Linked DNA regions of Homo sapiens: region 1 is linked to region 2. A link means that fine-mapping ties the variant in region 2 to the expression of a gene that starts in the linked region. Tissue or cell type: tibial nerve. Region 2 holds a variant in brackets; the other region holds the start of a gene. All regions are shown on one strand. Distances are from middle to middle.

Evidence for each region. PIP is the estimated chance that this variant, and not a neighbour inherited with it, causes the effect.
Region 1: SLC1A7 starts here. The variant in region 2 is fine-mapped to the expression of SLC1A7 in tibial nerve (GTEx, PIP 0.98).

Annotation. Positions count from the first base shown.
Region 1 is chr1:53,139,788-53,144,787 of GRCh38, reverse strand. SLC1A7 (solute carrier family 1 member 7) reads left to right here and starts at 2,150. Exons shown (of 11, transcript NM_006671.6): 1 at 2,150-2,473. The coding sequence starts at 2,339.
Region 2 is chr1:53,082,470-53,087,793 of GRCh38, reverse strand. PODN (podocan) reads right to left here. Exons shown (of 11, transcript NM_153703.5): 11 at 2,300-3,281. It overlaps SLC1A7 (solute carrier family 1 member 7), which reads left to right. Exons shown (of 11, transcript NM_006671.6): 11 at 1-611. Among named protein-coding and RNA genes, the nearest start is that of PODN, 23 kb to the right of the region's middle. The variant T/C (reference allele first, on the strand shown) is at 2,173.

The sequences.
Region 1 (5,000 bases), 57 kb before region 2:
GGTTCTGACCCAGGAGACTTGATTTGATTTGCAAATATTCTTAGTAAACTCATTATCAGTCACTTACACTTTAGTGTGAATTAGTCCGTTCTTGGGGTCTCTCCACTTTCTTATAAGCTTCCTGAAGGCAGGGCAGGTACTGTCTGATTCACTGTTGTGTTTCTAGTACCCAGGGGGTGTGGCACACTAAATGGTGCTATAAGAACATTTGCTAGAGTGAGTTGAAATTCTCCTGTTGAAGACCGTAGGAACAGTGGAAAGAATGGCTGTAGTCTGGTAGGCAGGTAGTGGTAGGCTCAGCCTGTGGGAGAGAGGAGTCAGTGGTGGCTATAGGGCACGTCCTGGGAATGGGAGTCATGGAGCTGTGGTAGAAAGCAAGACTCACCTATATCATGGCACAGCTAAAGGCCAGGTCTGGGCTGGGTGTGGTGGCTCATGCCTGCAGTCCCAACACGTTAGGAGGCCAAGATGGGAGGATTGTTTGAGCCCAGGAGTTGATCAAAACCCAAATCCAAATACCTACTTAGCATATTTTCTCTTCTGGGAAGTAACTAACCACCTGATTATTTGGAAAATGAGGCATTTGTTGGAGTTGAAGGTGTAGCAAGAAACTTTTGGTTTTAAGAGTCAAAGTCAGAGGAAAAAAAACTCTCAGACTTGTATTCACCCCCACCCCCCACCCCAAGCTACTGCAAAGAGCAGGGGCTTTGGAAGATTGGTTTGTTGAAATGAAGTTCCTTTGACAAAGGTACCTGGGCCCATTTCTCTCATTCTAAAAAGGACAAGACTGATACCCAGAGACGGCAAGGTCACAGAGCTGATTAAATTGGGATCAGAATCTTCTCAGTCAGGAGCTCTGTCCATGGCTTCAGAGCCTGTGCCCCAGTCCCCTCTCCCCACCTCTCCCCTATGCCCCACTTGGCCCGTCCTCTTCATCCTCTGCCCCTGTCTCCTATGTCAGGAGGAGGAAGCCCCTGTGTGCACCCCACCCTTTACCTCCCACCCTCACTGCAGACTGCACTTCCCATTCCCTGCTGCCTGCTGCCTGACTGCTCCTAATGAGATTACAGATCTCTGGTGAAATAGACGAGGGTTAATTCCCCCAGGCTTTACAGGGCAGGGCAGGCCAGGCCACAAGAAATAGCAAAAAGACACCTATTCTCCAAAGCACTAAGTGTGATAATGACCCTAAGAGTCCGTTCCCCTGTTCAGCACACCAGGGTTCACACTGCGTTTCCAAATACCCTCTGGGTGGAATTTTGTACCAGCCCTAACAAAGTAGATGCTGTTATCATCTCTATTTTACAGATGGAGAAACTGAGGCACAGTGAGATGAAATGCTTGTCTGAGGTCACACAGCTAGTAAGTGGCAGAGCTGGGACCCGAATGTGGGTCTCTTGGGCTCTGTCATCTTTAAAAAATAATAGGCCCAGAGAGCCTGCAGGGTGCCCAGCACCAGGCTTGAAACAGCCCTGAAGCATCTACGTCCCATTTCCCGGTGAGTGGCACAGCCCACCTTTGAACTCAGGTCCCCTGGACTCGAATCTACATTCCCCACAATACTGCCAAGCACCCTTGAACCTATCTGCCTGTTCATGTGGTGGAAACAGACTGGCCTAGCCCTGACTTCTGACCTCTGTGACCATGGCCAAGGGACTGGCTTCTGGGGTCTCAGCCTCCCTTTCTGAAAAATGAAGGTGGGAACCCTGGGATCTTTGGGACAATTCCCTATGATTGGCATAGCTAAGGCAGCCAGCACAGGCCTGGCCCGCAGCACATGCACCCACCCACCTCAGTTTCTTTATCTGTAAAATGGTGATATTAATAGTACTTATTTCTTGGGATTGGTGTTAGGATTAAATATGCCAGTACATGTAACACTCTTCTAGAATGGCACCTGGTGCATAGTAAATGCTTAATTAATGTTGAGGGAAACTGATATCTTACTGTCTTGTTTTTGATTCTTTCTGGAAGGAAGCAGGGGTAAAGATCAAACCAACCAAGCAAATGTTCCTCTTGTTCCTTCCAGTACCTGGTCCACTCAACTGTTTAAGAGGAACGCTTGGCTTTGAGGCCTGAACTCCTAGACCACGTGGTCTGCTCTAATTTCCCAGGCCCTAATCTGCTCCCAGCTCCTAATGATGCAGCTGGTAATAGGATTGTGGCTTCCCTCTAAGGCGGCCACACGGGCATGGCCGTGGGGCTGGCGACTGGTGTTTAGCAACTCCGACCACCTGCCTGCTGAGGGGCTAGAGCCCTCAGCCCAGACCCTGTGCCCCCGGCCGGGCTCTCATGCGTGGAATGGTGCTGTGCCCCTTGCCAGCAGGCCAGGCTCACCATGGTGCCGCATGCCATCTTGGCACGGGGGAGGGACGTGTGCAGGCGGAATGGACTCCTCATCCTGTCTGTGCTGTCTGTCATCGTGGGCTGCCTCCTCGGCTTCTTCTTGAGGACCCGGCGCCTCTCACCACAGGTCAGCCACCCAGAGCATCTCGGGACCCCTGTCCAGGAGGGGCGTGTGGGCCTGAGGGATCTGGGGTCCCGTTCTAGCATCACAGCTCCCTGGTGCCATGACAGTGTGTGAATCCCTCTGCCTCTCTGGGTCCTGGTTTTCTCATCTGTAACATGGGTGTGATAAACACTTTGCAGGACTAGAGGGAAGAACCAGTGATGTGGCTGGGGAGTGATTACAAACCCAGCACCATCAGGTGAGGAGAGGCGAGGGTGCCTCATGATGACAAACACAGGGCCAAGAGCTGTGGCGGGGAAAGAGGGGGGTCTTGTGTGAGTTCAAACAGGCACCAGAGAACACCTCCTAAAGGCTGCTCAAATGACAAGAGATCCAGGAAGCGTGCTCTAGGCAGAGGTGACAGCAGATGCCAGGTGCAGCGGCCGGAGCGCAGAGGCCAGCAGGCCCATAGGTCCCATCGCCACACGTGGGCTTGCGGCAACCATGAGATGCTTTTGGGCAGAAGAGCGACAGGCCAGTTTGGAGCTTGGGAGACCCCTCAGGTGCTGAGTGGAGAGGGGGTGATTCTGGGGCAGGCAGGGGGCCGAGAAGGGGCAGCCTGGGGGAGATGCGGCAGTGCAGACAAAAGGGACAGACGTGAGAACTGTTTTCAAAAGGGGGAGCTTCAGGATGTGGGGGCCGATTGGATGTGGGCTGGGGGACAGGAAGGGGAGCCAGGCCCCGGGTTTCCAGCCTGTGTAACTGCCATGAAGAAGCTGCGTTTCCTGGGAAAGAGCCCCTTTCCCTGTCAGCCCCCATCTCCTACAGGAGAGGGAGGGACATTCCCATGGTGTTAAGGACAAAATCATTCTGCCACTAGTTAAACTGGTAAGGAAGGCTCTATTCAGGACTATTGTGGTAGGGGGGTAGTTATCAAGACCTCCTGGGGAGAGAGATGGGACCCAACCACAAATACAACAAAGATGGCTGGAGATTTATAGCCAGCGAGCAGAGGGAGGGGGTCGGGGACAGAAAATGACTACAGGAGACATCAGGGTAGGGGGATTCTTGTTGAAGGCAGGCCAGGGTGATCAGACATTGATCTGGGATGAGGAATTTGATCCAGTATCAGGATGCTGGAGGGTGAGGGATCCTCACTAAACTGACTTGGCAGGACTTTTGCTACAGCTGGACTATGCAGGCTGAAGACAAGGCCCAAGGACAAAGCCCAGTGGAAAAGAGGGCTCAGAGGAGCCTGTCTAAAGTGTGGTCAAGGAGAGAGGCTTTGTCAATGGGCTCCTGGAAGAGTCCCTATTCCCAGAAAGTCCTCTTCCCGCAGCTCACTAATGTCTAATGCCATCTCTACAACTGGGGTCAGGCATTAGACTTTGTCTTCCATTAAAAGGAAAACACCCACTCCTGGAGAACTGAGCCACGACTATAGTGACCCTGTTAAGCCTCGAGCAGTTATTTAGGAAGAAGCATGGACTCTGGAGGCAGAGAAACCCTGAACTTTGACTCTGCTAGCAAATGGCTAGGCAATATCCTCTCTCCTCCCTGGGCCTCAGTTTCCTTGTCTGTAAAATGGGATGTGGGGCAGTATATGTCTACTAGAATTATTATGAGGAATAAACCAAGGATTCATCAATGCCCAGCATACAGTAGGTGCTTACTACGTGTTACTTCCCCCTCCCTCCCTTATGTACCTGTTAAAGTCCTATCTACATCAGGAACCATCTCATCATCCATAGCTGATGAAAGTAACTGTAACCCCGCTGCTGGCTGCCTGGCTTCAGAGCTGGTTATATGGGTGTCTCTTTCTCCCACCAAGCTGCATATTGCTGAACAACATATGGGTTTGTTTTTTTTTTTAACCAAAACGTGAGCCTAGCCCTGTGTCAGGCACAGAGAGAACGCTCAACTATCTGCTGCATTAAACTGGCAATGGAACAAAAAAATCTGCAATCTGTTCTCTTTAATTTTCCTCAGCAACAAAAATATATCTCCTGCAGGAAGATTATTTTGTGAAAACAAATTGGAATGCCTATTATTAAAAGCCAAACTCATCTGGGGCCTACTTTGCCAAAGCTGCCTTTCCCATCTGTTTGGAAATGCAAATGTATTCCAGTCTGGATTAACCTGCCAGATAAATTGAAGGAAGGATGTAGAGGCTTAGAACAATTATTTGGCAGAAACTGGCTTTCTCAGCATCTTACTTTGAAATCTGGGATTTCTCTGTTTGATCTCTTTGCCTGTGACTCAGAAACTAAACACTTCTTGTTTTGTAAGCTTATGCAACAGGCAAAAATCATAAACAATATGGAAAATGGTAGAATGTTCTATTTGTGAAAAAGAACTTTTATCCTTGATAAAATCACAGGATTTTATCTTGGTGTATGAGTGTCTCATTTAAAAATACTGAGCATTTTGAGACTTCCAGTTAAACCATGGTGAATCACAGGTGTATCCATTTTTTTCCCTCCTTCCTAGAATTCCACTAACATTTTAGTAATGGGATTTTTAAAAGGTAAAACCACCAAGAATAAAGAGA
Region 2 (5,324 bases):
ATTGCCTGAGGCCCCGCTGTGACAGTTTCCCCGGTGTGAGCCCGGTGAGGGCGGCAGGCAGGGGTTATCCGGCCCCACTTTCTGGATGACAGACTTGAGGCTCTGAGAGCTGAAAACACTTGTCCAAGGTCTCACGTTAAGGTCAAGACACTAACTCAAATCTTTCAAGCCCCGCCTCTCCTCTTGGAGGACAGGGCAGCCTGCAGCTGTGTCCAGGCCCAGGCCCCACCCCATAACAGGTGGCCTCAGCCACACAGTTCTCCCCAAGGGGAGCAGCCCAGGGCCAAGCCCCGCTGCCTTCCCCAGGCCACAGTGCGTCCAGTCTCCTGTCCTGCCACGTGTCTTTTGCAAAGCTCCTTGGATGTGGAGACAGATGTCTTTACTAGAGCTGAAAGGCCCCCTTGACACATCCAGGCCAACCTCCCATGGAATAGGTAGGCAAGCCAGGACTCCGGGAAGGAGGTGCAGCCAGGATGCTCTGGTGGAGCTGCCGATGGGGCCCTGGTGTCAGAACTCCCCAAAGGCCTGTGCGTCCAAGTGGAGTCAGGTTTTCTATTCCTTTCTGTGTTTGCAAATTCAGTGTTAACTAAATAAAGGTATTTTGTTTTTCACTTCTTGTGGGCTTCAACACCTTATGCTAGCCAGCAAATATGATATTAGCTACTGGGCTAATTAATACAGGCGGCCAGAGTGCAGACGGGCCTGTCTGGGCAGCCAGGATATGGGCGGGCCTATGCAGGTGGCCAGAATCTAACAGGCTTGTCCATTTGGCTGGAGTGTAGACAGGTCTGTCTAGGCTGCCAGTGTGTGGACAGGCCTGTATGGGCAGCCAGAGTGCAGAGAAGCCTGTCCTGGTGGCTGCAGTAAGGACAGTCCTATCTGAGCTGTCACATGCAGAAGACAGAGTATAAGCTAGCCTACCCAGGAGCCTGTCTCAATAACCACAGGGCAGCTGGGCATCGTCCAGTGTGGACAGACCTCTCTGCCATGGTCTAGGCTCTGCTCTGCAGGCAGGGCCTTGAGATCAGTCCCCAAAGAAGAAACAGATTTCCTTCCCAGTCTGGCTCCCCGTGGTGAATGCTTTGCTTTAGACAGGGGCGTGCCCAGGGACATTTCCAGATGGTCTCCCTCATTCTCACACCCCAGGCTGCCTCCAGGAGGCCTGCAGGGCACACAGAAGGGCCCTGGCAACACAGCCTGTTCCAGATATGCCTTGGGGAGAAGATACAGCTCTGGGGTCTGGAGGGGCTTGCACCATGATGCCCTTGAAGACACTAAGGCCCAGGGAGGGGACAGGCCTCCCCCAGGTCACTCAGCGTCAAGAGGGCACCTGCTCCCACTGCCCCATTCCTGAACTCCTTCCACCCTCCTCCCAGGGGTGGAGTGTGAGGAGTCTGGGAAGAGCACGACCCCAGGACACCTCCTCCCACTGCAGGGCTGGGGGCTGCAGGCCTCCACGAGAGCATCCTTCCTTCCCTGAGGCCTCCTCACCTGGGAGAGGTCAGATGTCATGCAATCGGTCATCCCACCTTCATGCAGACAAGCTTAGCAGCCCCTTCTAGGTGTCACATCTCTAAGACCCCTTGAGCAATCGAGTCTGTCCCAGCACAAGGCAGGAGTCTGCTCTTTAGTGGACTTGGCAGGAGCATCCTTACACACCTCCAGCAGCAGGGAGGTCACCACTTCCCGAGCATCTCAACCCACAGTGGGGCAGCTCTGCCCATCAGAGGCTCTTCTTAGCTCAGAGCTGGGTACCACCTCCCGGTGGCAGCTCTCCCACTGGGGTGGGAAGCACACTGGGTGCATCTGTTAGCTCTTTCCTGGAAAGGTCTGCGGAGACCTGGGCCCCCAAGTCGGCTCTGCTCCAGCTCCCAGGCCTGCCTCCAGTCCCCTGCTCTCCTCTAGAACCCACTAGTAACACCCTGTCAGTGCAAAGGTGACCCATGACCCTCCAGGTGAGCCCTTAACAGGCCCAAAGCCCATGAGGTCCTTTGCTTGGATGCTCCACCTCTGGGAATGCACAGCAAGCTCACAGGCCGCGTGTGCTGGTTCAGGCCTCACCTACTATTCCCGAGTGGGCCATCTGCACACACCTCAGGCCCCCTCGCCTGAGGCTATGCCCTGTTCTCCCAGGATGCCTGCCTGTGCAGCTACTCTGCGGGCCCCGAGAAC[T/C]GGACTTTCCACTGATGTCTGCTGTTCTGGCCAGGGCGCTGAGGGGCTTGTATCCTGCCCCCTCCACCCGGCACCAGGCCAGCACCTGGCAGGAAGCAAGCACAGACATAGCCACAGGCTGCAGGGATAGGGATAATGCTTTTATATTAGTTTTTCTATAACAAGAAAAATCAGCTTTGAGATTTTTATCATTTTTTTCCTTAGAAAAGAATAAAAAATAAAGGCACCCGGAACTTCCCCCACAGGCCTGAAGAACAAAGGTGTCTCCTAGGTGCAGCTGGGTCCTTCCTCCCTGGCTCAGCCCAGCCCCATCACCTCTGCTTCACTCCTGCCCCAAGGCCCCAGCAGCACCCAGGGGGCTCTCCCATCCTGCCTCCACTGGGCTTGCCCATTGGAAAAGTGCCTGTGTCCTGCCAGGGCGTGGCAGGGAGGGACTCTTAGCAGAGTGACTGCCCAGCACCTGGAGGAGCAGGGTGGGCCAGGCCAGGCCAGCAGTCCTGAAGGCTCCTGTCCCCATAGGATGGGAAAGGAATAAAAGCCAGCTTTTGTGAGTTCCAGAGGGTGGCAGGCACCTGGCCACAGAGCATGGATACCCTTGTGTCTTCTCCAGGGAACGGACGGACAGATGGACAGGGCAGACGGCGAGCTGCTATGGCTGATTCTGGCTGGGGCAAGAGCTGTCTGTGGCATAGGCTTTGGAGGGCTGTTCGCACATGACTTGTGCATGTGTGTGTGTGTGGTGTGTATGCATACGCATACACATGTCAGCAGGGGGAGGGAATGGGTGCCTGTGTGTGCCAGGGCAGGGGCAGACCCTTCCCTGCATGATTCAGAGGGCGTGGCAGCGGTAGTGGGGGTGTGACAGAGACTGTGGTGGTTTGGAGGGTAGTTGTGTGTGGCTGAGCTGGGTGTTTGAGGGTGTGATGTGTGTGCATGTGTCTGGCCGTGGGACACGCCGTGGGAAGGGGTGGGGATATGAGACTGTGTCAGCCCGTGTCATGTGGGATGCCTCATGTGTGCAGCTGGGTGTGTCTGTGTGAGCACGGCAGAGTGGGGGGCTCACAGCACACAGGCGTGTGCTGCAGAAAAGAGTCCGGCGGTCCATCGTCCTGTGGAACATGTAAGAGAGTCAGGGGCCAGCTCAGGGCAGACCCACCAGCCCAAGCAGCCTGAGGGGACCTGCTGTGGGGAGCCCTGCTGGAGGGGGCTCTGGAAAGGCCAGGCTACTATGAGTAGGGAGGGAGCGTTGGCCCTGGGAGCCCAGAGCCAGCGGGGTGCCAGAAGGCCTTTGGGTCCCACCAGCCACTCCCCAGGGCTTCTCCCAGAGCCCCACTCAACTGACCTGAGATGGGGCAGATTCTCACCCACCCCAGGACTCCACAGCCCCTCATGAGGGCTGTGGTGTCCCCACTGGATGGCCAGTCACCCTGTCACCCACCCCAACTCTGTGTGAGGACAACACCTCAGAGAACCAGCTCTACCTTCATACTCCCGGGCCCTGGGAGCTGGGGAAGGTGACCCCCAAGCTCAGCCTCTTGCCAGCCCCTCCACACTTGCGGATACCCAACTCTGTGCACACTCTTCTCTCACCATCAACTTGCGCCCTTCTCCCAGCTCCCTCTGTCACCCACCCAAGTGGCCCTCAACAGCCCCCTCTGGTTCCTCTTCGTCCCAGGCCCTACTTCAGTCAACACTCAACAGTGGCCCGGCAGCCCCTCCCACGGCTACGTCCTGGCCCTGTGACCCCCAGCCTGGCTCACTCCTCACCAGCTCTCCTCTCTCCTCCGACCACACAGCCGCTCCTGGCTCCTCTCCAATGTCTTTCTCTGAGTCCCTGCCCACCAGCCCTCCTATCTGCACCTCCTTCCCTACCCAACCTGACCCCAGGACCCATGCCTGCAGCCAGCCTCCGGCCAACACACTCCCTTGTTCCTTGCCCTCCTGTCCTGAACTCTTGGCTGAAAAACTCAGCTGTGGGTGGATCCACCTGTCCATTTTCTCCATACCTTTGGTCTGCGGAGAACCTCCCTGCTGCACAGAGAAAACGGAAGACTGGAGGGATCCGGCTGACATGGCTTCACATCTGGCCACCAAGCCACCAATCTGCCTGTGACAGCAGCCACCCTGCCCTTTGTTCCTCCTGCTAAAGCCAGCAACTTCTACCATTCCCACAGGGGCCCTCAAAGCCAGCTCTTTCCTACATCGGTGACTCCCCCTCCAGGCCAGCCTCTTCCCACCAGCACCCAAGCCAGCCCCCTCCTTTAAGAGGGTGCGTGTGGAAGATGCATGTGTGTGTCGGGGCATCTTGCCAGAGCCCCTCACACAGGGCTCCCCTCGAGAGGCCTTTGCTTCCTGTGAGGCTCAGAAAATGAGCGTTTCCTGAACTTCACACTCCATTCCCACCTCTGCCCTCTCTCATCTCTCACAGCCAAACTTCTCAAAAGGCTGGTCTGCAGTGCCTGGACCCACTTCCTTTCCAGCTGCTCTTCTCATCCCAGCTTCCCCTGCTGCTACAAAGTCACAGACAGCCTCCAGGTGGAAAAATCCAGTGGGCGCTCCGCAGTGGTCAGCTCCCTCAGTGCTCAGTTCCCTCAGCCCCTCAGCAGCACTGACACAGCCAAGTCCCCACTTCTAGACAGGCCTGTGCATGCACGCATCATGTGTACATGTGTGCATGCAGGTGTGCATGTAAGGGCCCGTATACGTGGGTACGCATGGGTGTTTTGTGTGCATGTACTCACATGCATGTACACACGTGTGTGCACGTATGTACATAGTCTAGGCATGCAAATGTGTCATGGGGTACAAGCATGTATGTGTGTCTGTGTGCATGTGTGTGGTGTGTGTGTTCTGCCTGTGCATGGTTTGTGGATGTGTGTACATGTTGAGACGTGTGTGCACATGAATGTATGTGTGTTGGTGCATCCGTGTGCATTTGTGTGCATGTGCACATGTAGGTGCCTGTGTTACATACATGTGCAAATGCCCTCTGCCCACGGCAGTCTGGGGTTTTCCTACCTCCTTTCCTAACTGCTCTGTCTCAGTCACCTGCCCCCCTCACTCACTCTCCCATGGCAAGCTTCCCCAGCCCCCTGCAGCTTGAGTGATTGTTTCAAGGCTAACAATGCCTGGATCCCTCTCTCCAGACCAGA